5 separate regions of the Homo sapiens genome follow, and all the other regions are linked to region 2. The links come from fine-mapping of genetic effects on gene expression. A gene starts in region 2. Each other region holds a variant in brackets. All regions are shown on one strand. Distances are from middle to middle. Region 1 holds the start of UMAD1 (UBAP1-MVB12-associated (UMA) domain containing 1). Region 2 holds the start of MIOS-DT (MIOS divergent transcript). Region 3 has its middle 27 kb from the start of UMAD1. Region 4 overlaps MIOS (meiosis regulator for oocyte development). Region 5 overlaps COL28A1 (collagen type XXVIII alpha 1 chain).

Region 1 (5,107 bases), 75 kb before region 2:
ACGCCATTCTCCTGCCTCAGCCTCCCGAGTAGCTGGGACTACAGGCCCCCGCCATCGCGCCTGGATACTTTTTTGTATATTTAGTAGAGACAGGGTTTCACCATGTTGACCAGGGTGGTCTTGAACTTCTGATCTGAGGTGATCCACCCGCTTCAGCCTCCCAAAGTGCTGGGATTACAGGCGTGAGCCACCGCGCCCGGCCCTGATCCTAGGACTTTTACAAGCTTGTCTATTTCCCATGATTCTTTCCTTAGGATAGGCTGCCGGCAGGCACAGAGCCCTCCTTAGCCTTGGGAAGTGTTTTTAGGGAGTTACATGCACGCCCATCTGAGGCTTCCTTCCTTTTTCCGGTGGAGTGTACCTGGAAGATCATACTTTACCATTTTTGTCTCTTAATATGCATGCCCAGGAAGCTGTTTCTCCCTCGGGTCTACATTCAATTAACATTTTGATAACAGGTGTGGACCATCAGGAAATGGCCTCTCCCTGGCGCTGCAGAATTATCATTTTTAGAGAAGCAAATTCGGTAATTGCCAAACCATCCCCCAACATTTCTAGTGGGTTGGGGGAGAGCCCACTACTGTCCCACTCATGCCTACCTGTAACAGAAAAAAAAATATGATCTACGTACATTCGTCAACATAGATGAATCTCAAAAACAAACAAAAGAAGTCAGAAGATACATACGTTTCTGTTTATATAAAGGTCAAAGACTGGCAATATTAAACAACATACCATTTAGCAACGCCTGCATGTGTGATAAAACCACCTAGAAAAGCTTAGGAAGCTTAACACAAATTTCAAGATAGTGTTTACTTATGGCTGTAGCAAGGAGGGCTTCATTGGGGAAGTGCAAACTGGTAAAATTTACTGGTAACTGGTAAAGTTCCATTTCTTCAGCTGAATGACAGGCCCCATGGATTCATTTCATTTCTCTCAAAACTATGCAAATCGGCTAGCTATACTTTTTTCTGTACATCATGTATTTTATAATATTTTAAGTGACTCAAAAATACACGAAAAAGCTGTTTTAAATTATCTTCCTGCTCATCTCCCTGTTTTAAAAGAAAGCCTTTGCTTAAAAGTGGTCTTTCTAACTGCAGGTAAACAACGACATTAACATCTGGTACTCACAGGAGTGCTCTTTAAAAAAAAAAAAAATCACTATTACAGGGTACGCACCAAGGCTCACACCTGTAATTCCAGTACTTTGGGAGGGAGACGGGGGAGGGAGGGATCGCCTGAGCCCAGGAGTTTGAGATAAGCCTGGTCAACATGGCGAGGCCCCATCTGAACAAAAAAAAACAAACAACAAAAAAAAAATCTTTATTAGCTGGGTGTGGTGGTATGTGCTTATAGTCCCAGCTACTTGGCAGGCTGAGGTGAGAGGATCGCTTAAGCCTACGAGTTAAAGGCTGCAGTGAGCTATGTGCATGCTACTGCACTCCAGTCTGGGTGACAGAGAGAGATCTTGCCTCAAAAAAAAATGCTATTAAAGACATTGATGTGTGTACTCTCCCCTATATAATGCACATCAACTTGCTTTGCAAAACAATGCTAAAGTACAAAAGACTTAAAGCTGTAATATAAAATAGACTTTACTGACTTGCACCAATACAACCACAACTTTTTTATACACCACTGACACACATTCTACATCTGTTTAATGAAATCCTTTAAAGTACCGTTAGTGAGTAAAACTAAGACAAACCTATTAAGTGCTAAGGAAACACTAAGGGAGACTATCATTTAATTATCGTACATGAGATTCCAATCTTAAATTGCCACGTGAAGTCTCAAATCGGATCTTTTTTGCTTAAGGGAATTTGAACGATGACAATTCTGTAGCTTTGGGCCAATTCACAGACTCAGTTTCCACAACGTTATAATACCCAATTAAAACTTCTGTCCAATTTCCACCGTACCGTTTGAAGGTATTTTTATGTGCACTCATTCTAGAATACTCCTGGCAAGGCCGCCGGCTTCGGGTCACAAGATGAGCCAGGGACAGATTGGAGACTACCCCCAAATCTCCCAGGAATCGGTTATCTTCCAGACCTCCAGATCGCCCTCCAGAGTCTCGCAGTGTGGAGGGCAACGACAGAAAGACTGCTGAGGGGGTTTAAACTG[T/C]TGAGTCAAACATATGGCCAAAAGTCAGAGTCAACTGGGACCTTGCAAATCATTCCGCCTAACCCTTCGTTTTGCAGATGGGGAAAACACGCCTCAGAAGGGAGAACCCTAGCTCGGGGAACCCTAGCTCGGGGTCTAACAACGATTTAAGCTTGTCTCCCCTAGTACTGGCCAGTGGTTCTTCCCCGTTACCCATCCTTAAGTGCTTCTATTGGCTGCCAACACGGAGGGGTTAGCGGGGTGAAAGAACCGGCGCCTCCGCAGTGTGGCCAGGTTGGGCTAAAAAACGTCTTAGAAGTAATCGGATCAATCTCTCTTCTTACAGGTGGAGAAAGTGGAGAAAGTAGAGTGACGCAGCTAAGGGAGTAAATCGACCCTCAGCCAACAAGTGGCAAAAGCCTGAAGAAAGTGATCAAGATCACTGATGACCCCGCTGCCCATCTCCAAGGGGGCGGGTATCACAACCCCGACGCCACACCACGTATCATTCCGCAAAACTCCCGCGCCTCCCACGCAGAACTGGCAAGAGGGAAGGCGAGACAGCAGTGAACAGCTGGTACGCAGCACCCACAGCACCGCGGCAGCAGCTAGTGCCGACTCCCGCCTAGCTCTTTTGACTCTGTTCGCGGGAAGAATGGGGAAACAGTAAGGTTGCGGCGCCTCCCGCGAGACGAGGTACCTGAGGCTGGCCCCGCAGTCCCCCGCCGCACCAGCACCGGAGCTTCACACCCCACTTCCGGGGTCAAGTCACCGCCGGGAATCCTGTGATCGCAGAAAGGTAGTCTCAGGTTCCGCCCCTATCCAAGTCCCGCCTCCACTGCCTCTCGCCCTGTATCTGTCAACTTCCGGGACGCCGCGCGTCACTAAGCAGCCAATCTCCACTTCCGGACTCATCCAGCCCCTTCTCCACCCCTTTCAGAGACAGCGCGATTGCGATTTAGGTTTCCGCGCATTTAATTGGCGAAGCTGGAGCGCTAGTCTTCGCTGATTGGTGCCGAGAAATCTGCCCCATAGACACCCGCGGGGCGCACAGTTTCAGTCGTCCGTGGGTTTCCCGCCAGCCGCAGTCTTGGACCATAATCATGGTGGACATGATGGACTTGCCCAGGTCGCGCATCAACGCCGGCATGCTAGCTCAATTCATCGACAAGCCTGTCTGCTTCGTAGGGAGGCTGGAAAAGGTGTGCGGGTTCGCAATCATGGGCTCCCAAGTCCGTAGCTGGAGGGAGGGACCCCGCCTGGATAACGGGGGATGAAAAAGGACGGAAAGCCTCCGATCACTGCGCCCCCGACTCCTTTATTTTGCACAAGGAACTTTTTGGAAATTCTTTAGCCGTTGTAGCCCCATTTTGGCGCTCTTTTATGGCACGGAAACAAAGTGTTTTCAAATGCTGAGTTCTAAATTCCAGTGCCCGTCGCCTCCGTTCTAGCCGTGCTTACGTAAGGGAAATTATAAACACCACTCCCACATCTACCTTCAGATTTCTTAGTTTACTCAGACGTGACGGACGCAGACAAAACTAATCTGCTGGTTTCCTTCTCTTCTGAAATTACTTATTTTTGCAAACCTCGTTTCCTCGTTGTGATCGCTTCTCTGTAAAACATGCCTTGGTTGTCCGCTTTGGGTCCCGTAGTAACGAGTTATTTAACCCCAGTATTAAAGTGAAGTTCCCTCATTCTACAGGCGAGAAACAGGCCCAAAGTCTTGGAATCAGTGACCTGAAAAGCTGAGGAAAAGAAAACTATTATATAAAGACTTATTTAGTAGCTCATTTCATCCACACATCCTCTTCCTTAAATGAGTGTTGCTCTGACTTCCCAAGTAGGGAAACTGAGTAGGAGTGGTAGGTGGTTGACTAAAATGCTCAGAAACTCGGCAAATGGCAAAGCTGGCATTCAAACGCAATCTGACAGCGCTCTTTACAGCTGCTTCCCAGGAGTAGGACCCAGATATTCTAGCAACCAGTTCTCCTTTTACTTCATCATGCCTGTTTTTTAAAACATACCCTCCGTGGGATATGTACTGTCTAAATCATGAGTGCCAGCAGATTTCACTTTTAGGGTGGGCATCCTTTAATTTGTTATCAGAATAGGGTTGCCATATTTAGCAAATACAGAACCTACTTAACACTACAAAAAAAATCCTTGTTTATCTGAAATTCAGAAATTAACTGTGTGTTCCATGAACAGATTTGATAACATAAGATTATAATTTGATCCAATAAGTTGAATAAACTGAATGAATAAACTGTTCAAGAAACAGTTGATTTGTGCTCAACTAAGGATCAATGTACTCATCTTTAGTCAAACTTTGTTGTTGTTTTAGTGAGATTTTAATTATATGTTTCGTTTTTAGATTCATCCCACCGGAAAAATGTTTATTCTTTCAGATGGAGAAGGAAAAAATGGAACCATCGAGTTGATGGAACCCGTATGTTTAAGTGTTAATAAGTCTCTTATATATTATAGTTAATTCTTCATCTTGATTTGGTTTGTTGCCGATGTTTCTAATTTTTGCAATGGATTTAAAAAGGATGAGCTGGTAAAACGTCCCTGGCTGTAAAATTTAATTCTTGTACTATTCTCTCATTATATTTCCTTTTACATTTTTAACCAATGATTTTTTGGGCGTCATGATTTTTGAACATATCCCATAAATGTTGGATAACAATTCTCATTCCTTATGAAAGACCATAAAATCACATAAGAAAAATTTACGTTGCTTTTTTCTTCCTCAAGAGGTTTTTTGTTTCGTTTTTGTTTTTTTGTTTTGAGACAGGGTCTCACTCTGTTACCCCGGGTGGAATGCAGTGGCACCATCATGGCGCACTGCAGCCTTAGCCTCCCAAGATCAAGTTGCTCCCATGTCAGCCTCCCCAGTAGCTGGGACTACAGGCATGCTTAACCATGCCTGGCTAATTTTTGTTTTGTTTTGTTTTGTTTTGTTTTGTTTTGTTTTTTGTAAAGATGGCATCTC
Region 2 (5,107 bases):
CAAAACCATAAAACCGAGATAAAATCTATCCCATTTCCATCTCACAAAGCTGTGACAATCAACTGAAATGAGCTCTTCACATCACACAGATGTTAGTATTACTACCATTCCCTTAATCAGCCCTGAAAGTTAATGTTTTTTCCAAATTTTGGAGACATTAAAAAATTAGGTGTAGAAGGGGTGCGGTCTGCAATAATTACAGCTTGTATTTATATCCTCACCTTTCAAGTTTAACAAGTCTCACTTCCCATCAGTGATTTCTCAGCAAAGGAAAGCCATGCTGATTCTGTGTTCATTCACCAGAATATTTGCAACAGCACTGTCCAAAAGAAATACAGTGTGAGCCATATGATTTAAAAATTTCTAGTAGCCACATTTAAAAAGTAAAATTAGGTGGAATGAAATTTAAAAACACATTTTATTTAGCCAACATATCAACAGCATTATCCTTTCAATATGTAATCAATGCAAAAATTATTGAGGATTTTTACGTTTTTTTGGCACCAACTCTGGGAAATCCGATGTGTATTTTACACTTATAGCACATCTCAATCCCATGTGGCTACTGGACAGTGAAGTCCAACACATTAAAATACTACTCAGTGTACAAAGGATCCAACCACATGCTTTTTGATGTTGTCTTTTACTTTTCTTACCGTGGCAAATTACGAGAGCGGTTTCAAGAAATTTCCACCATCAGCATCTTCGAGGAGATGCACTGCACATATCCAAATTTCCCTTAAAATATACAAAAGGCCTGCAGTCATTTGCTAACCTATTCAGCAAAGTCCACAACATGTGTGAGGTTTCATTCATCCTCTTAATTTTCATTACTCATATGAGAAGAGAACAGAGCTCACCGGGAGACAGGCCGTTTAAGAAGTATAGTATTTAAGAGGGTACAACGGGAACAGGGCACGTTGCTATTCTAGGTAAAGCAGGAATCTGAGTCCGACTCTCCCGCTCCAGGCACCTGGCTGAGCCTCCCGGGAAAGGCTGGGACGCCGCTCCCCACAAGCCCGCCGCGGCGAAGGCTGTAGCGTGTTCCCTGCGCCCCGAGGAGGTCTCCGCAGGTCCCACGGCCGCCCGCAGCCCCCGGTGGCTCCCGCTGAGGCCCGGCCAGGCGGCCGGCCGCCCGGCGCGATTACCCTACAGCGCGGAACGCGCTCCCCGCCGAGACGCCCGGGCCTTTCAACTAGGCTATCTCCGGCCCCTCGCTGCGGCCGCGGCGCTCCCGAGAGTCGAGACGCGAACCGGGTCGCGCTCACTGACCTGAGGTGGCAGCGCGGCCGCCGCACAGCCGCTTCCGGCCGGGACACCGCCCCGCCCGCCGCAGGAGCCCGGACGCGGGCAAGATGGCGGCCGCGGCCGTGCGGCCCGTGACCTGGACCACTGGGCTGGGACCCACGACCCCACCACCACGCCTGGAGGACGCGCAGCGGCGCCTCGGCCTTGGAAGGGGAGTTTCCCAGCGCGAGCCCCGCCCTTCCCCGCCCGGGAGGCGCCTCGGGGCGGGGTCACTGGCCGGGAGGCCCCGCCTTCCGCCCGAAAGCGCCGGTGCACCCCGCAGGCCCTGCCCGTGGGTCCACAGGCCGGATCCCCGGGTTCCTAGGCTGGGACTGCTTCTCAGAACCACTCTGTCGTTTTTAAGCAGGGTCACACACTCTAGCTCACTGGGTCCATTTTAATTTCTATTAAACATTTTTTTTTTTTTGCAAATGATGTAGTAGGAGATCCAAGGTGTTTGGTTAATGATTTATTCACTCATTAGTCATTCCACAAACTTGTCTTGAGCACCTGTTATGTACCCAGCACTGTGCTGGAATGCTGAGGAGACAGGAGTGAAGTAAAAAGACATGGTTCCGGCAGGAAACAGGCAAGGAGAGCCTTGACTTGGTAGGGCTAACACAGTGCTACACAGGAGGGACGCCCGCTCGGTGTCGGGGGTCAGCAAAGCTTCCTTAAGGACCACTAGGTTGAGACAAGAAGGATGAGTATGGGATTAGCCAGGAAAGGGAAAAGGGCAGTGGGAACTGGAAGAGAAGAGCCTTCTAGGACTGGGAAAGAGCAAGTGCCGGGTCAGGAGAGAGGACATAGCAGTGAGGAGGCAGTAGGTATGGATGAATGAGCAGAGGAAGTGGGGAGAGATTAAGGTGCTTTCAGAAACGGGTTGGAAACCAGTTTAGTGAGTTTGGATGGCATTTACCTAAAGGCAATGTTAGAGTCATCGAAAGTTTTTAATCAGGCAAGTGGTATGATCAGTTTTTTGTTTTGTTTTGTTTTTTTTGAGACGGAGTCTGGCTATATCGCCAGGCTGGAATGCAATGGCGCGATCTCTCCTCACTGCAACCTCCGCCTCCCGGGTTCAAGCGATTCTCCTGCCTCAGCACCTCGAGTAGCTGGGACTACAGGCGCGCGCCACCACGCCCAGGTAATTTTTTGTATTTTTAGGAGAGATGGGGTTTCACCATGTTGGCGAGGGTGGTCTCATTTCTTGACCTCGTGATGCGCCCACCTCGGTCTCCCAAAGTGCTGGGATTACAGGCATGAGCCACTGTGCCCGGCCAGTATGATCAGTTTTTGCGCAGAGAGCTGGAGGGATAGAGTATCAGAATGAGGGATGATAGAAACGCAGGTTACCAGTGGCACGGAGAGTGGGCATGGAGAGAAGTGGGGGCCCTGGGGAATACTTAGAAGGCGGGATGAACAGAGCTTGGTGACTGACCAAGTGAATGACGGTGAAAGAGGATTCCAAGTTTTTTGTTCCCAAAACTGAGTGAATGGTGCTGCCTCAGGTGTCACGAGTCTGACCTCGAGGCAGTCTTCAGATGTCTGACAGTCTTTGCTTGTCTGTTCATGATTAAAAGTGGGTGGTCTTGGGCTTGTGGTGGTGATGGCTGTAAACAGCATAATGAGCTTAGTCCTGATGATCTTGGTGGCAGATGGTTTTGATAAGATGATGAGTTTGGGGAAAGTATTGCCTTTCCAATCCTGCCATTAGAAGAATGTAGGCTGAAGAAAGTGCTGTATTACTGAGAGGAGACATGACAGTATTCATCACTTCAAACACTATCTTGCCAATCTTCTCAGTGGTTTTGACCCTGGCCTCAAACCCCCACACAAAACCTCAGATCAATACAAATCTCTTCCTTATCCACTCCTACTATACATAGTTGAGGACAACTTTTCTGCTTGCACTCAGGAGATGACACTGCCTCCTACTTCAGAAAAGAAAATTAAAACTATTAGCTAGAATTTGCACAACCTCCCACTGCTTCCTCCTTCCCTCCTCCAACATCTTGATTCACTACCATTCTTACCTTCTTTTAGGTGACAAAGAGTAAGAGGAGGAACCCCATGTATATCTCCTCTTCTGGGACCTTGCACCATCAATTACTTCACTTCCATGTATCTTTGCCTCTCCATTTCTACTGGTTCTTTACTTTCAACACATACTCAAGTTATTCCCATTTTCTCTTCAAAGGAGAGGATCATATTTGCTCTCTGTAATTCCACTTCCCCCTCTCTCCCTTGAATTCACTCCATTCAGTCCTTCATGCCCACCATGCCACGAAACTGCCACTTGTCAAGGTCACCTGTGAGCTCCATGCTGCCAGTTTCAATGGCCAAAGCTTCACTCTTGCAACTTCTGTTGTTCTTGACTACTTCCTCTCTTGACATGTCTCATTCACTTTGTTGCATATCATCACTTTCTTCTGGTTTGTCTTTTATCCCTGTGACTTCACTGTTCCTTAAACATGACAAGCATGCTCTTGCCTCAGGGCTTCTTCACTAGCTATTCCCTCTGTCTGGAATGCAGAAATCTACATGACTCATACTCTCCCTTTACTCAAGACTGCTCACTTGTCACTGACTACCTATAAATTAGCTCCTTTGTTGTTGTCTTTATGACACCACAACTTCACATACGTCGCCATCTCTTTACTTTCCTATAGTTATCTTCTAGACTGTGTCTTCTCCTTATCTCCAGTTTTCATTCTGTATTTTTTTTCTTTTTAGTAAGAGGAAATAACTCTACATTCAAATTTGAGCAGGGCACTTGGTGACCTACTTAGACATGACATTCCTTGGCCTCCCTTTCAGCAAGGTAAGGCTATATCAAAAAGTTATGTCCTGTAAGATGTGAGTAGAACTGGATCATGTCCCTTAAAAGGAAAGCTGCTTGCTATACACTTTCTCTTCCCTCTTCTTGCTGTCTGGCAAATGGCAAAAAGAAATACAGACTGGAAATGGAAGCCATGTATTAAGGAAGGCAAAGCTGTTCTCACTAGCCTAAGTCCCAAACTAATCTCAGGGAGCTGGGGCACCTCCTCCCTTGGATCAACCACAGACTTCTGGACCATTATGCAAGAGAAAATAAACTTTGTTCTTTAAAAAATCATTGTTTGTTTGGACCTGGTAGAGCAGCTTAGCCAATTCCCTAATTAAAACAGAGGGGCTCTGTCTATTTTATTCTCTGCTTAATCACCAGGATGTAAAACAGTACCTAATAAATGTGGTAAATAAAAATGTATTGAATAAATCCTAAAACAACGTATTTATTCTACATCCTCCTCCAGCTAATGTCCCTTTTTCAACTTTCTTTTCCACTCAAGCTTTGTGAAAGTATATATTTTTTCATATTGCCACTAATTCTTCTAAAGCCCCTCACAGGAATAAGTGACACCTTTCTCAGTCTTTTTGGAAACTGATTCCCCTTCTCTACTAAACCAAGATCCTTGCAGGTAGCAATCTTTTAGCATGGAACTTTGGATTTCCCTTAGCACCTGTTGCATAGGTATCCAAAAAATATTTACTGAGTTGAGTGAGTGCTTTGTATCTTTGGAAACAGTAAACCGTAGCAGAGAACTTGACAGACTGGTCTGAGATTACACTAGTTGCCTTTACTAAACATGCGTTTTACAATAGATCCTAGGGCCACTGTAGTTCAGTCTCGGTATTTTGTTTGTTTTTAATTTAAGCTTTTGTATTCCTAATAGGATTTTTTTATTGTTGTTTTTTTGAGATGGAGCCTCGCTCTGTCGCCCAGGCTGGAGTGCTGTGGTGTAGTCTCAACTCACCACAATCACTGCCTCCCAGGTTCAAG
Region 3 (5,107 bases), 48 kb before region 2:
AAATGACAAACAGGTGAACACTGGCCAGTTGGCAGTTGGTGCCTAGAATACTACGCTGAAAAAGGATCTGAGGGAAAGTGGGAGATTGATGAACCACTTGTGCCAAAGGTAAAGAAGTGTGTGGTCATTCACCACTAGGTCAAGCACAACTTGGCCTAACCTGTCCATCTCATGGTGTCTGAAACGAGTTGCTGTATTTCTCATTGGAGAATTTTAACACATAGAGGAAGTTTGCTATTGGCTCACATGTAGAAATCTTGTTACTATGTGTTTTTCTTATCACCCAGTGCTTCTTACCATGACCATTTTCTTCCCATTTTTCAAAATACAAGTAAGTCTCAGCTATCTACATTAATCAATGTTAGGTAAAAATGTCCTCTACTTAGCAGTCCTCAAAGCAGCCTTTGTTAGCTTCTTCTTAAAATTTCACAAAGACAGAAATGAAAAGTCACAATACCACTACCAACAGATTGTGGAAAGAATATTAATCAAGTATAGGACAGAGCAGCTGGATTGAGGACCTATGATAGCTCCATTTTGTTGTATAATCAATGCGTCTCAGCTCTGAAGAAAATGCACATGCACTTCAATTGGGTGACCAATACAATGTAGTAAAGGTAGTGTCTTAATTCAGAGGCAGATAAAACCAAAACCAACTGTTTATATTTGAATTTGAAATTCAACAGGGGAAGAGAGAGGAAACAATGAGGAAATAGGAGAAAGCCATGCTGGAAGATGAACATAGATGAGGAAGGAGTTTAAGCTCAGTAATATTGAGAACTTGAGGAACTTGGTCCCAGGAGCAGAAAGAGATGCTAAAATACCTATTCCAAGTACCATTCATTTTCCTTGATGTATCATTTTACCAAAACTACAATCTGTCACTTTTTTGTAGGACTATGGAGACCCACATTATCTGCCATCTGTTTTAGAAATGCAGCCCACATCATCCCGACATCTAAATGATGATGTTCTTTTCACTTCATTCTCACATCTGCCTGCTGAAATATAAGAAAAACTTTATTTTGCTGTATCTCAGTATCATTTGTAAATCTCCTTCCTCTAACTTCCCCCTTTCTGGATAAATTCTGACCTTTCAAAAATGCCTAACTCTATCCTTTGACTTTTTGTCTGAAGGAAATAATTTGGCAACTTCATTGGTCACTATTGAATGCAAATTGTAGCATTTCATAAATCTGCATTTCAAGGAACATGACAGTGATTAATAAAAAGTTTGGAAATCTTAGAGGGTTGTTCTTGAAACAAAAACAATCCTTCCATGCTTCCTTCCTCAATCTAAGGTTTTGTGATGCTGTCTGATGAGCAAAAAAACAAAATCACCTTACCAGGTCTGACAGAGTGACTCAGAAGGGATTATTTTTTTGTTATTTTTAATGCCATAACTTTTTAATTTAAATGCTAATTGATGATCCTAGCACAACCCTCTAGTGGCAGAATCAATTTCAGTAATGATGTTGATGGCTGCAATATGATCAACTGAAGCCTCCACCACTTGGTACAAAAGGAGTGGAAATGATAGGCAGCTCATTAATCATTTATTCCAGAGATGAATGTGTTCAGTTGCTGATAGGGTGCTGTAGGTGAATGCTGCCAAAATGAGAAATGTCAATTGTCAGGCCTCATGCATAATAACTGTGGAGCTATTTTTAAGCTTCTTTGAAGATTAAAGTTATGCCCTTTTTCCCTACAGTTCCGTCACGTATGCTTGGCAATTTTGGTCTCTGAGAATTGATTTTCACTATGCGCAGATGTCTCTGCTTGAGAAAAAATATACAGCTCAAAATCTAGCATATTTGAAAAGTTATCTAGAATCTGCAGAGGTCCACACACTGGAAGAGGACTCTAAATGAATACATAAGAAGTAGAAGATGCAAACCTGGAGATATACTGAGTAACTAACTGTTTTGGCCAATTTTTCCCATGAGATATGTTTTATCAGGATGATACACGTTTTTAATTTCCCAGGTCCCCACAGGGAACATACATTTTCTGTATTCATATAACATTTTCTGAAGACAGAAGTAACAAAATTCAATAAAATATATTAAAAAACAATACAATGTTTCTAAAAGAGTAGTTGTTCCCAGATGACCTTGAAAATCTGTCCTCAGCTTACTTGTCTCTAAATTGTGTCTGGTTCTTCCAGTAGAAAAAGAGAAAAAATGTACCCTGTCTGGAGTATTCTCTTTTGGAAGCCAACAGTATCTTAGCATTCATTCAAAGAGTTACACTCAATTTTCCAAAAAGCATTTAATGTATTTCAGAAAGCCGTCTATGTTTAAAAATGCTAATCTGTACTAAGAGTGACAAGTGACCATACATTCCATTTTTGAAGAATGGAAGAAAAAGATCAGAAGATTTGAAATGATAAAACATATTAATTTTTAAAGAAGTATTACTTTATCAAGAGATACTTCTCTCACATTTGTCACATCGCTGAATATGTTTGCTTCATAAATACACATCTTCATCTATTTTGGGAACATTTATGTACCATAAAGATACACATCCATAGTTGTTCAAATATTAAGTATACCTACTTAATGCATAATAAAAGTTTTCAAATTGACGATGAAAATATTTTTTTGACATAACACCACAGGAATATTGTAACATTCCAATTTTTACTATGAAATAATACATGGTGCTAAAAAGGATACTTAGCTTTACATTTTACAGTAGCAACTTCTTATTTAACTATCATCAGCAAAATATGTGGCTGCAATGTGATATAAATCTGGATAAGCATGAATTTGGA[C/G]AACTATTATTTCAAACTCCAGGCTTTCTTATGTGTAGATGGAGCTAAAATTCTTTAAATAAAAAGATGTAAGATAAATAGTTTGCATGAATTCTTACATATATGTTTCAAGCTGTGAGACATTAATCCCTTCAAATGCTCCTCCAGACTTGTCTTTGTGACTTTATATTTTAAGAGACTAATTTGATTCCTGCATCTAAATTTCCAGTTAAGAAATTATGTTAAGGCAATATGCTTTTCATAAATTGAATGATGAAAGTCTCTACTGAATTATTATTGCTGCTGTTTCTAACATTACATAAATTATCCTTTAATCCTAAAGCTGCCTTTTTAGCAAAGCATTTTAAAACACTGTGCCATTAGTAGATGAGTAAGAAAATTACATTTTTGAAAAACGTTATGGAAATCTCTATTTCCTCAAATTATTTTTAATTGGAAAATAATTTTTAAAGTCCAAAATGAGAAAATCAAATAGACATTTTCTGGCTTGCAGAGATGCTAAAATGATACTCATTTTATGCAAATGCTATAGCAGTTGTAAATATTAAGCTTAATAGATTTGAATCTGCTGAAAACTATGCCTGGATCTGCCTCTTCCATTAGACATACAACTCCTCCAAGGCAACTATGGTGCCATCAATCCTTTAACATCAGAACCTTTAACACTGTCCAGCACACGTAGGTATGGTTCTGTGTTTTGGTGAAGCAAAGACACACAGGCATGTTCAGAATTCATCACTTAAACCTAAATAACCTGCTATTATTGGAAATGAATTGAGCAAAGTGCATGCCAGATTAGACTGGACAATAATCACATAAATTCAGTACATAGAGGAGGACAGCTTTCCCACCACAGACCCAGAGCCAAAAAAGAGGAGTCAGGAAATCTCATGACGAAGATATAGGAGAAAAAATATTGAAATGAAGTTATTAATCATGTACCACTAAGCTCAGGGAAATCAGAATTATTTTACATATTCATTTCCCAATACGCTAAGTGGAGAACATAATGCACTACTTCCAAATGTAATGAAGAATTGAGAGGACTATATCTTGTTATTCTTGTATATTACTAGTGTAGAGTAAGAAATCTAGAAAATGCTTTCTGAACAATTAGATCTCAATCCAAATTTTCATAACATCTTGTAGCCTGTTTTTTCACCGCATAGAATAAATCCTAACATATGATTGTTTCACTGTGTTTAATAACAAGATACAAGGTCATGGATAACTTTTCTAAAAGCCAGTATATACATATATGGTGTGTATGTGTGTGTGTGCGCGAGAGACAGAGTGAGACAGAGAGATGCATGTACATTTATATATTCATTATTATTGGGAAAAATGAAAGATAGATATGAAGAAAATGTTACTCAAAATTCCACTCTTTAAAGATGGCCACTGTTAAAGTTTCTGTATTAACCATATCCCAAACAAATATATTTATATGCTAGATATACTATCCTAAAACTTCCCTTTCACTTACCAATATATTAAGAAACCTTTGTCAATGAAAATATCTATACTAATTGAATCATTTCTTAGTAACCCACTGTATGTATATACAATAATTTATTCTTTTCTATTATTGGACATTTAGGTTTCCAAGTTTTTATTATAAACAATACTGTGTAGAACCGTATCATAAAAATATACATCTTTGTGCACTTATGCAATCAATCCCTCAGAAAATATTCCCAGCATACTATGTCAAAGGGTATGAAACTCTTTACGGCTTCTGATTAATACAGTTTACCTGTCCTCAAGACTTAAACTCTCATAAGCTGTTATCTCAGAATGTTTCCTTCCCACATCCATGAAAATGCCTATTATTTTAAATCTATGCAGTCAGGCGAACAGTATTCTACTTTTTAATCAGCATGTTACTGATTTAGCATTTATTTGTCAGCAGTTCTATTTTGCTTGCACAAGTCTTTGATTGATATTATCTACTGATTGTTTTTTCCTCGGCTTTGAAAATGTCCTTTCTGAATTAAGGCAATTTGTCATAAATGTTGTAGTTTATCAATTTGTTTGCCTTGTAACTATGATTTTTGCCATATCAAATTTTGATGACTTGGAAAAGAAGCAAAGGTGTGCCTTTCGCTTTCTTCTTTTTCATTGCCATGTGCAGAACCAGTGACAACAGCATCCACTTCTTATTCCTGTCTATAGTGAGAAGGATTCTAGTATTTCTCTAATAGGCATCATGATGTATGAGACAGTAAAACAGGAGGGGAGAAAATGGAGAGAAAACATTTCCTTTGCATAAAAACTGACCTCAAAAACAAATTAAGAGATCAATTTTTGAATTTTATCAAGCTCTTT
Region 4 (5,107 bases), 37 kb before region 2:
AGTAGTTTAAAATCTTTCCACAAGGAAAATACCAGGCCCAGTTTACAAGTGAATTTTACTTAACATTCAAGGAACAGGTAGGGCTGGGTGTGATGGCTCATGCCTGTAATCCCAGCACTTTGGGAGGCTGAGGCGGGCAGACCACTTGAGGCTAGGAGTTCACGACCAGTCTGGCCAACATGGTGAAACTCCGTCTCTGTTAAAAATACAAAAATTGGCCGGGGGTGGTGACACATGCCTGTAGTCCCACCTACTTGGGAGGCTGAGGCACAAGAATTGCTTAAATCTGGGGATTGGAGGCTGCAGGGAGCCGAGATTGCACTGCTGCACTCCAGGCTGGGTGATGGAGCAAGACTTTGTCTCAAAAAAAAAAAAAAATCTATCAAGGGACAGGTAATTCTCATCTGTACAAGCCCTTTCAAAGAAGAGAAAAAGCAGAAAGTTTCCCAATGCACTTCATGAGACTTGTGTAACTTAAACAATTGCTTAATTAGACTTAATATTTTTACTTAATTGCTATCTATAAAGACATTATGCATCGATAACTATGTTAAAAATTTTGCTTGGACCATTGCAGGTCACGCTTTCATGACCAAAAGGATAATCTTGCAGTCGGGAATAGTTTTAAAAAATATCCGTTTTTGCTAATGATATGAGGTGAAAGGATGTGTAAGTAATTCAATGATTAAAGATGTAAACACACTAGAATTACTCCTGAAAGGGTCACCAACAATTAATAATGAGAGGGCAAAAAGGAAAGGGGGAAGAGATAAATAAAATATAGATCTGATATGTACACTACTTTACACCTTTGTGTAAAGCTCTCATTAGTGCTTGTCACTTTGTTTTTGTAACTTCTAACATAAACAGATAACAGACTGAATCAGAACAAGGCATATCCTTATATTTTTCTGACGAAACTGGAAGTATTAAGGTCTATCTCACTGCCAAGTATAAAGGCTTAAGATCAAATGACTTCAAATTTTAAAAGATTTATAGTGAATTATGAAGACAAGTGCCACAGAACACTTTAGGCGAAACTAGAGTTTCACTTATGCATTAACTCATAATGTAAGAAGAAAATGAAGGAAACCAGTAGATAATCTAACTTTTAAAAAATGTGTCATTGTCCAGAAGTTAAATTCTGTAAGGGCAGCGATTTTTGTCTTCTTTACTGTAACATTTCTAGCACTTGGAACAATAGGTACCAAATAAACATTTGTTGAATAAATAATATTTATAATGTTTATAATGATGTTAGAACTGTTTCAACAGATTTCTAATCTTCAAAGCACAATTGAGTATAAAAATATCAACTCTCAGTTAAATAAGCTTATAGAAATTCCAGCTATTTGAATCACAAAGCATGATGGATGGATGCAATCTCTGATTGCAGGCAAAGCACCAGGGAGGTTTAGATACTCGAGCCACTAGCCAGCACTTTATTTTTTTTTAAATTTTATTATTATTAAAGTTTTAGGGTACATGTGCACAACGTGCAGGTTTGTTATATATGTATACATGTGCCATGTTGGTGTGCTCCACCCATTAACTCGTCATTTAGCATTAGGTATATCTCCTAATGCTATCCCTCCCCCTTCCCCGCACCCCACAACAGTCCCCGATGTGTAATGTTCCCCTTACTGTGTCCATGTGTTCTCAAATTGTTCAATTCCCGCCTGTCAGTGAGAACATGCGGTGTTTGGATTTTTGTCCTTGCGATAGTTTGCTGAGAATGATGGTTTCCAGCTTCATCCATGTCCCTACAAAGGACATGAACTCATCATTTTTTATGGCTGCATAGTATTCCATGGTGTATATGTGCCACATTTTCTTAATCCAGTCTATCATTGTTGGATATCTGGCTTGGTTCCAAGTCTTTGCTATTGTGAATAGTGCTGCAATAAACATACGTGTGCATGTGTCTTTATAGCAGCATGATTTATAATCCTTTGGGTATATACCCAGTAATAGAATGGCTGGGTCAAATGGTATTTCTAGTTCTAGATCCCTGAGGAATCGCCACACTGACTTCCACAATGGTTGAACTAGTTTACAGTCCCACCAACAGTGTAAAAGTGTTCCTATTTCTTCACATCCTCTCCAACACCTGTTGTTTCCTGACTTTTTAATGATCGCCATTCTAACTGGTGTGAGATGGTATCTCATTGTGGTTTTGATTTGCATTTCTCTGATGGCCAGTGATGATGAACATTTTTTCACGTGTTTTTTGGCTGCATAAATGTCTTCTTTTGAGAAGTGTCTGTTCATATCCTTTGCCCAGTTTTTGATGGGGTTGTTTTTTTCTTGTAAATTTGTTTCAGTTCATTGTAGCTTCTGGATATTAGCCCTTTGTCAGATGAGTAGGTTGCAAAAATTTTCTCCCATTTTGTAGGTTGCCTGTTCACTCTGATGGTAGTTTCTTTTGCTGTGCAGAAGCTCTTTAGTTTAATTAGATCCCATTTGTCAATTTTGGCTTTTGTTGCCATTGCTTTTGGTGTTTTAGACATGAAGTCCTTGCCCATGCCTATGTCCTGAATGGTATTGCCTTTCTTCTAGGGTTTTTACGGTTTTAGGTCTAACGTTTAAGTCTTTAATCCATCTTGAATTAATTTTTGTATAAGGTGTAAGGAAGGGATCCAGTTTCAGCTTTCTACATATGGCTAGCCAGTTTTCCCAGCACCATTTATTAAATAGGGAATCCTTTCCCCATTGCTTGTTTTTCTCAGGTTTGTCAAAGATCAGATGGTTGTAGATAGGTGGCATTATTTCTGAGGGCTCTGTTC[C/T]GTTCCATTGGTCTATATCTCTGTTTTGGTACCAGTACCATGCTGTTTTGGTTACTGTAGCCTTGTAGTATAGTTTGAAGTCAGGTAGTGTGATGCCTCCGGCTTTGTTCTTTTGGCTTGGGATTGACTTGGCAATGCGGGCTCTTTTTTGGTTCCATATGAACTTTAGTTTTTTTCAATTCTGTGAAGAAAGTCATTGGTAGCTTGATGGGGATGGCACTGAATCTATAAATTACCTTGGGCAGTATGGCCATTTTCATGATATTGATTCTTCCCACCCATGAGCATGGAATGTTCTTCCATTTGTTTGTATCCTCTTTTATTTCCTTGAGCAGTAGTTTGTAGTTCTCCTTGAAGAGGTCCTTCACATCCCTTGTAAGTTGGATTCCTAGGTATTTTATTCTCTTTGAAGCAATTGTGAATGGGAGTTCACTCATGATTTGGCTCTCTGTTTGTCTGTTATTGGTGTATAAGAATGCTTGTGATTTCTGCACATTGATTTTGTATCCTGAGACTTTGCTGAAGTTGCTTATCAGCTTAAGGAGATTTTGGGCTGAGACAATGGGGATTTCTAGGTATACAATCATGTCATCTGCAAACAGGGACAATTTGACTTCCTCTTTTCCTAAATGAATGCCCTTTATTTCCTTCTCCTGTCTGATTGCCCTGGCCAGAACTTCCAACACTATGTTGAATAGGAGTGGTGAGAGAGGGCATCCCTGTCTTGTGCCAGTTTTCAAAGGGAATGCTTCCAGTTTTTTGTCCATTCAGTATGATATTGGCTGTGGGTGTGTCATAGATAGCTCTTATTATTTCGTGATACATCCCATCAATACCTAATTTATTGAGAGTTTTTAGCATGAAGGGTTGTTGAATTTTGTCAAAGGCCTTTTCTGCATCTATTGAGATAATCATGTGGTTTTTGTCTTTGGTTCTGTTTATGTGCTGGATTACATTTATTGATTTTCGTATGTTGAACCAGCCTTGCATCCCAGGGATGAAGCCCACTTGATCATGGTGGATAAGCTTTTTGATGTGTTGCTGGATTTGGTTTGCCAGTATTTTATTGAGGATTTTTGCATCAATGTTCATCAAGGATATTGGCCTAAAATTCTCTTTTTTTGTTGTGTCTCTGCCAGTCTTTGGTATCAGGATGATGCTGGCCTCATAAAATGAGTTGGGGAGGATTCCCTCTTTTTCTATTGATTGGAATAGTTTCAGAAGGAATGGTACCAGCTCCTCCTTGTACCTCTGGTAGAGTTCGGCTGTGAATCCATCTGGTCCTGGACTTTTTTTGGTTGGTAAGCTATTAAGGATTGCCTCAATTTCAGATCCTGTTATTGGTCTATTCAGAGATTCAACTTCTTCCTGGTTTAGTCTTGGGAGGGTGTATGTGTCCAGGAATTTATCCATTTCTTCTAGATTTTCTAGTTTATTTGCATAGAGGTGTTTATGGTATTCTCTGATGGTAGTTTGTATTTCTGTGGGATCGGTGGTGATATCCCCTTTGTCATTTTTTATTGCGTCTATTTGATTTTTCTCTCTTTTCTTCTTTATTAGTCTTGCTAGCAGTCTATCAATTTTGTTGATCTTTTCAAAAAAAAAACCAGCTCCTGGATTCATTGATTTTTTGAAGGGTCTTTTGTGTCTCTATTTCCTTCAGTTCTGCTCTGATCTTAGTTATTTCTTGCCTTTTGCTAGCTTTTCAATGTGTTTGCTCTTGCTTCTCTAGTTCTTTCAATTGTGATGTTAGGGTGTCAATTTTAGATCTTTCCTGCTTACTCTCGTGGGCATTTAGTGCTATAAATTTCCCTCTAAACACTGCTTTGAATGTGTCCCAGAGATTCTGGTATGTTGTGTCTTTGTTCTCGTTGGTTTCAAAGAACATCTTTATTTCTGCCTTCATTTCGTTATGTACCCAGTAGTCATTCAGGAGCACGTTGTTCAGTTTCCATGTAGTTGAGCGGTTTGGAGTGAATGTCTTAATCCTGAGTTCTAGTTTGATTGCACTGTGGTCTGAGAGACAGTTTGTTATAATTTCTGTTCTTTTACATTTGCTGAGGAGTGCTTTACTTCCAACTATGTGGTCAATTTTGGAAAAGGTGTGGTGTGGTGCTGAAAAGAATGTATATGCTGTTGATTTGGGGTGGAGAGTTCTGTAGATGTCTATTAGGTCCGCTTGGTGCAGAGCGGAGTTCAATTCCTGGATATCCTTGTTCACTTTCTGCCTCGTTGATCTGTCTAATGTTGACAGTGGGGTGTTAAAGTCTCCCATTATTATTGTGTGGGAGTCTAAGTCTCTTTGTAGGTCACTAAGGACT
Region 5 (5,107 bases), 180 kb after region 2:
CCCAAAGTAATTTATAGATTCAATGCAATCCCTATCAAGCTACTATTGACTTCCATCACAGATTTAGAAAAATCTACTTTAAATATCTTATGGAATCAAAAAAGAGCTCACATAACCAAGACAATCTTAAGCAAAAAGGACAAAGCTGGAGGGATTACGCTACCTGACTTCAAACTATACAATGAGGCTACAGTAACCCAAACAGCATGGTATTGGTACCAAAACAGATATGTTGACCAGTGGAACAGAACAGAAGCCTCAGAAATAACACTATACATCTACAACCATCTGGTCTTTGACAAACCTGACAAAAACAAGCAATGAGGAAAGGATTTCCTATTTAATAAATGGTGTTGGGAAAACTGGCTAGTCATATGCAGAAAATGAAACTGGACCCCTTCCTTACACTTTATACAAAAATTAACTCAAGATGGATTAAAGACTTAAGTAAGACCTAAAACCTTAAAAAAAAACCCTAGAAGAAAACCTAGGCAATACCATTCAGGACATAGGCATGGGCAAAGGCTTCATGACTAAAATACCAAAAGCAATGGCGACCAAAGCCAAAATTGACAAATGGGATCTAATAAACTAAAGAGCTTCTGCACAGCAAAAGAAACTATCATCAGAGTGAACAGGCAACCTACAGAATGGGAGAAAATTTTTGCTATCTATCCATCTGACAAAGGGCTAATATCCAGAATCTACAAAGAACTTAAATTTACAAGAAAAAAACAACCCCATCAAAAAGTGGGTGAAGGATATGAACAGACACTTCTCAAAAGAAGACATATATGTAGTCAGCAAACGTGAAAAAAAGCTCATCATCACTGTCATTAGAGAAATGCCAATCAAAACCACAATGAGATACCATCTCACACCAGTTAGAATGGCGATCATTAAAAAGTCAGAAAACTACAGATGCTGGAGAGGATGTGGAGAAATAGGAATGCTTTTACAGTGTTGGTGGGAGTGTAAATTAGTTCAACCATGTGGAAGACAGTGTGGCGATTCCTCAAGGATCTAGAACCAGAAATACCATTTGACCCAGCAATCCCATTACTGGGTATATACCCAAGGGATTATAAATCATTCTATAAAGACACATGCACCCACATGTTTATCGCGGCGCTGTTCACAATAGCAAAGGCATGGAACCAACCCAAATGCCCGTTAATGATGGACTGGATAAAGAAAAGTGGCAATATACACCATGGAATACTATGCAGCCATAAAAAAGGATGAGTTCATGTCCTTTGCAGAGACATGGATGAAGCTGGAAACCATCATTCTTAGCAAACTAACATAAGAACAGGAAACTGAACACTGCATGTTCTCACTCATAACTGGGAGTTGAAAAATGAGAACACATGGGTACAGGGAGGGGAACATCACACACCAAGGCCTGTCATGGGGTGGGGGGCTAGGGGAGGGATAGCATTAGGAGAAATGTCTAACGTAGATGATGGGTTGATGGGTTCAGCTAACCACCGTGACACATGCATACCTATGTAACAAACCATGTTCTGCACATGTACCCCAGAAATTATAATTTAAAAAAATTGAACTGAAATTGGTATGAATACAAATCCTAGGGAAGTATAGAGGCTTCTGGTAACAGTAGAAGCCTCCTGAATTCAAACAGCAGAAGCTGTTTCTGCGTAGGGAGAAATCCACACCTGCAGCTTTGTTTTAGGTCTTTTGATTTTCTTTTAGCCTTTGGGCTCCCAAACTTTGAGTAGGCAAAGTACCTGTATACTCATATGCTTTAGCCGCTGCAGCAGTGATAGCTGACATCTTTTTGCAACCACTTGGTACGTTTATTCATGCATTCATTTTATGTATTAATGTTTAACTTTTATTTTGAAATAATTTCAGACTTGCAAAAAAAGTTGCAAAGATAATACAAAGAATTTTTATATATCCTTTACCCAGATTCTATAAATGTTAATATTACCACATTTGCTATATCACTTTGCATATATATATATATGTCTGTGTCATATTATTTTTCTGCAACGCTTGAGAGTAAAATTCAGATTTGGTACCCATTTACTCCTAATACATCAGTATTTTTGCTACAAACAAGCACATTCTCTTATATAACACAGTACAATAATAAACATCAGAAAATTATTGATATAATACTATTTAATCTATAGAACTCATTTAAATTTTGCCAAGTGTTTATCTAATTCTTTTTAACTTTTTAAAGTATTGTTTTATTCTTTAGTAAAGGATTATTTATATGCAGTAAAATTTACTCTTTTTAGTATGCAGTTTTATGTGTTCCAGCAAACCCGTACGAGGAGG[C/T]ATCTAATGGTCTGGGCGTGGTTTCCTGACCCTCCACAAATAGTAGGGCATCTCTAAAGATCTGGGCCCAGGATTCATTCTTGCAAGGTTTATTCTGTTTCCTTCAAAAGGAAACAGAATGTGGTCTGAAAATTCATATGGTCCCCACATTCATATGTTGAAATTTTAACCCCCAAGTCGATGGCGTTAGGAAGTGGGGCCTTGGGGTGGTGATTAGGTCACCTCTGTCCTCAGGAATGGGATTAGCACCCTTATAAAGGAGGCCCCAGGGAGCTGTCTTGTCCCTTCCACCATGTGAGGACACGGCAAGAAGGTGCCACCTATGAACCAGGAAATGGACCCTCACCAGACACTGAATTTGCCAATTCCTTGATCGTGGGCTTTCTAGCCTCCAGAACTGTGAGAGATAATCTGCTGTTGTTTATAAGCCACCCAGTCTATGGTATTTTGTTATAGCAGCACAAACAGACTGCGACCTGTGGGACCTGTGCTTCCCTTCCCAGGCTAGCACCACAAGGGAAGCCTACTCCTGACCCTAGTCCTGGCCCCAGTCTTTCTCTTGAGCACCAGCAAAGTCCCTGAGAAGAGTCTGTGAGTAGCTGTGATTTTCTCTTGTGCCTGCAGCTCCCAGGGGTCCTATCCCCTCCTGCTATCCCACACTCAGCCTTTAGCATCCTGTTAAAAATTTTAGCTAAATTCTCACCAGCTTGTATAACATGTGGCACCTCCACCAGGTAGGTGAATTTCCAAGCCTGTGTCTCCTTGAAGGATCTTGACTTTCCTTAGATGCTGAATTGGCGGGATGCCCTGCAACCACAGCTCTATGATGGATTCAAGAAAAGCTGTGACTTCACAGATTAGTTCTCATTTTTTGTTGTTGGGGCTTTAAGAATGAGAGTAGCATTTTTTTCCACTTTTCTACACACTGGCAGAAGCCAGATGTCCATTTTACATTTTATGATCATCTATAAATTTGATTTTTTTCTTACCACACCTTACTGAGAAAACATTTCGAAAGAAAAATCATTGTTTCCTGACGTATCAGTAATGCACAAATAAATCAATGGAAACATTCAGGTAGATGTGCATTATTCTTAGAAATTTCTCTCCCAGAGAACAAGCAGTCATCTGAAAAATGAAAATGATCACTTCTTTATCAGGACCCATCTAATGTGGTGATATAGTGATTAACCAGGGTTTGAAATTTAGATTTAATTATAGCTTCCAATAAAATAGGTTGTTTCCTGCAGTTGTTTCTGACCCACACTCAAATCATTGTTTATCATTTTCCTGAGACTTATACATTGAAAAGTCTGATTGGATAGCATTCACCTCTGCCAAGATCAGACATGGATTTACTTGCTAAAGGCTTTTAGCTAGATAGTCTACTCTGAAAGTTATAGGAAGCCTTTAAGTATTTTGAAGGGAAACTAGTGATTAAAAAGAAAATGAATTGCCTTTATTATAGGGAAATCTAGCTGCCTGGAATATCTATAGTGTTAACAGTTATATAGAAAATACTTACATTGTGAAGTAATGCAAAAGAAGTTCCTGAACATTACCCTAACAAGATAATTTGCTACTCTAATGTTTTTTCCCTCAGGCACGTGTCATGCTTCCCCTTACAACAGTAGGTTTTAGCTATATTAGGAAATTGTGTCATTTCTTAAAGGCAGCTAGTTAGTCATGAACATGTATTGGACATCTTCTGGAGGAATCTGAAATATTGCAAAAGAAATAATTATTCTGAGTAATTGTCAGAAAGGTATGGCATTCTTTCTGGATTCACTTTGTCTAAACATATAACTCCTAGCGATAATTCACCATCACACCACAGTCTCAGCTCCTCTGTTTATCACACTGTTCTGTCCTTTCAGGCTGAGACAAAGCCAACCATGGATTTCCTCTTAGTGTTCTCCCATGAGCCTTTAGTCTGTCTTATCCCTGGCCAACTGTACCCCCTAACTTAGGTACAGCGGTCTGACGCATCTCCCTTGCAACCCAAACCTTCTACCAGGTACCTCATTGAATGAAAATGTCCTCATTCACCTCCACAAAAAATCTGAGAAAACAAATTTATACCAAAGTGTGATTTACCAAGACATCTTTCTTAAGAGATATCGTTCCTATACTATTTGCGTTTGTTTTCCTTTTGATTTGAACAGAAGAAGATGGTATAACCTCAGGCAGGTAGCTGCCTGCAGTCCTGCATATCACTCTGGGGGCTGGCTGCTAGTCTGTATGTAGGCAGACCCCACTAACCTTCATGTTCAGAAGCAGGCTGCAGATCCACTCCTATTAGAGCATGTTTTGCAGGGAGCCTCATGAGGCTGTTCTGTGTTATCTACACTTTCCCACCTATTCATCTTCATGACACCTATGTTGGGAGTGCCATCTTTGGAAACAGGACAAATTTTTCTCCTCTCCTTTTTTTTGATTGAATTTTCATCTTGGAATGCCAGTGTCAGTTTAATGTTTAGGGTTTATTTAACTGGTACAAATTCCTATCCAGGGTTCTGGGGCTCCCAATGATATCAAGTTTCCTGGTGGGAAAAGATTACAGTAGTCCCTCCTTATCTGCAGGAGATATGTTCCGATATTCCCAGTGGATGCTTGAAACCTTGGATACTACCAAACCCTAAATATGCTATGTTTTTTCTATATACACATACCTATAATAAGGCCTAATTTAAAATTAGGCACAGTAGGAGATTAACAAACACATAATAAAATAGAACAACTATAAGCAATATACTGTCATCAAAGTTATGTGAATGTGGTCTCTCTCAAAATA

What was found. PIP is the estimated chance that this variant, and not a neighbour inherited with it, causes the effect.
Region 1: its variant is fine-mapped to the expression of MIOS-DT in thyroid (GTEx, PIP above 0.99).
Region 3: its variant is fine-mapped to the expression of MIOS-DT in tibial nerve (GTEx, PIP above 0.99).
Region 4: its variant is fine-mapped to the expression of MIOS-DT in tibial artery (GTEx, PIP above 0.99).
Region 5: its variant is fine-mapped to the expression of MIOS-DT in esophagus mucosa (GTEx, PIP 0.95).

What each region holds. Positions count from the first base shown.
Region 1 is chr7:7,638,524-7,643,630 of GRCh38, reverse strand. It overlaps RPA3 (replication protein A3), which reads left to right. Exons shown (of 8, transcript NM_002947.5): 5 at 2,456-3,311; 6 at 4,487-4,561. The coding sequence starts at 3,213. UMAD1 (UBAP1-MVB12-associated (UMA) domain containing 1) reads right to left here and starts at 2,879. Exons shown (of 4, transcript NM_001302348.2): 1 at 2,810-2,879. RefSeq lists enhancers at 2,419-2,588, 2,669-2,718, 2,759-2,958, 3,229-3,278, 3,649-3,698 and a silencer at 3,059-3,188. The variant T/C (reference allele first, on the strand shown) is at 2,131.
Region 2 is chr7:7,563,238-7,568,344 of GRCh38, reverse strand. MIOS-DT (MIOS divergent transcript) reads left to right here and starts at 2,280. Exons shown (of 5, transcript NR_110084.1): 1 at 2,280-2,431; 2 at 4,021-4,108. It overlaps MIOS (meiosis regulator for oocyte development), which reads right to left and starts at 1,461. Exons shown (of 13, transcript NM_019005.4): 1 at 1,273-1,461; 2 at 657-738; 3 at 222-319. RefSeq lists an enhancer at 671-740 and a silencer at 991-1,640.
Region 3 is chr7:7,611,019-7,616,125 of GRCh38, reverse strand. No RefSeq gene overlaps it. Among named protein-coding and RNA genes, the nearest start is that of UMAD1, 27 kb to the left of the region's middle. The variant C/G (reference allele first, on the strand shown) is at 2,780.
Region 4 is chr7:7,600,569-7,605,675 of GRCh38, reverse strand. All of the region lies in intron 11 of MIOS (meiosis regulator for oocyte development), which reads right to left. Among named protein-coding and RNA genes, the nearest start is that of MIOS, 36 kb to the right of the region's middle. The variant C/T (reference allele first, on the strand shown) is at 2,787.
Region 5 is chr7:7,384,480-7,389,586 of GRCh38, reverse strand. All of the region lies in intron 27 of COL28A1 (collagen type XXVIII alpha 1 chain), which reads left to right. Among named protein-coding and RNA genes, the nearest start is that of LINC03016, 130 kb to the right of the region's middle. The variant C/T (reference allele first, on the strand shown) is at 2,314.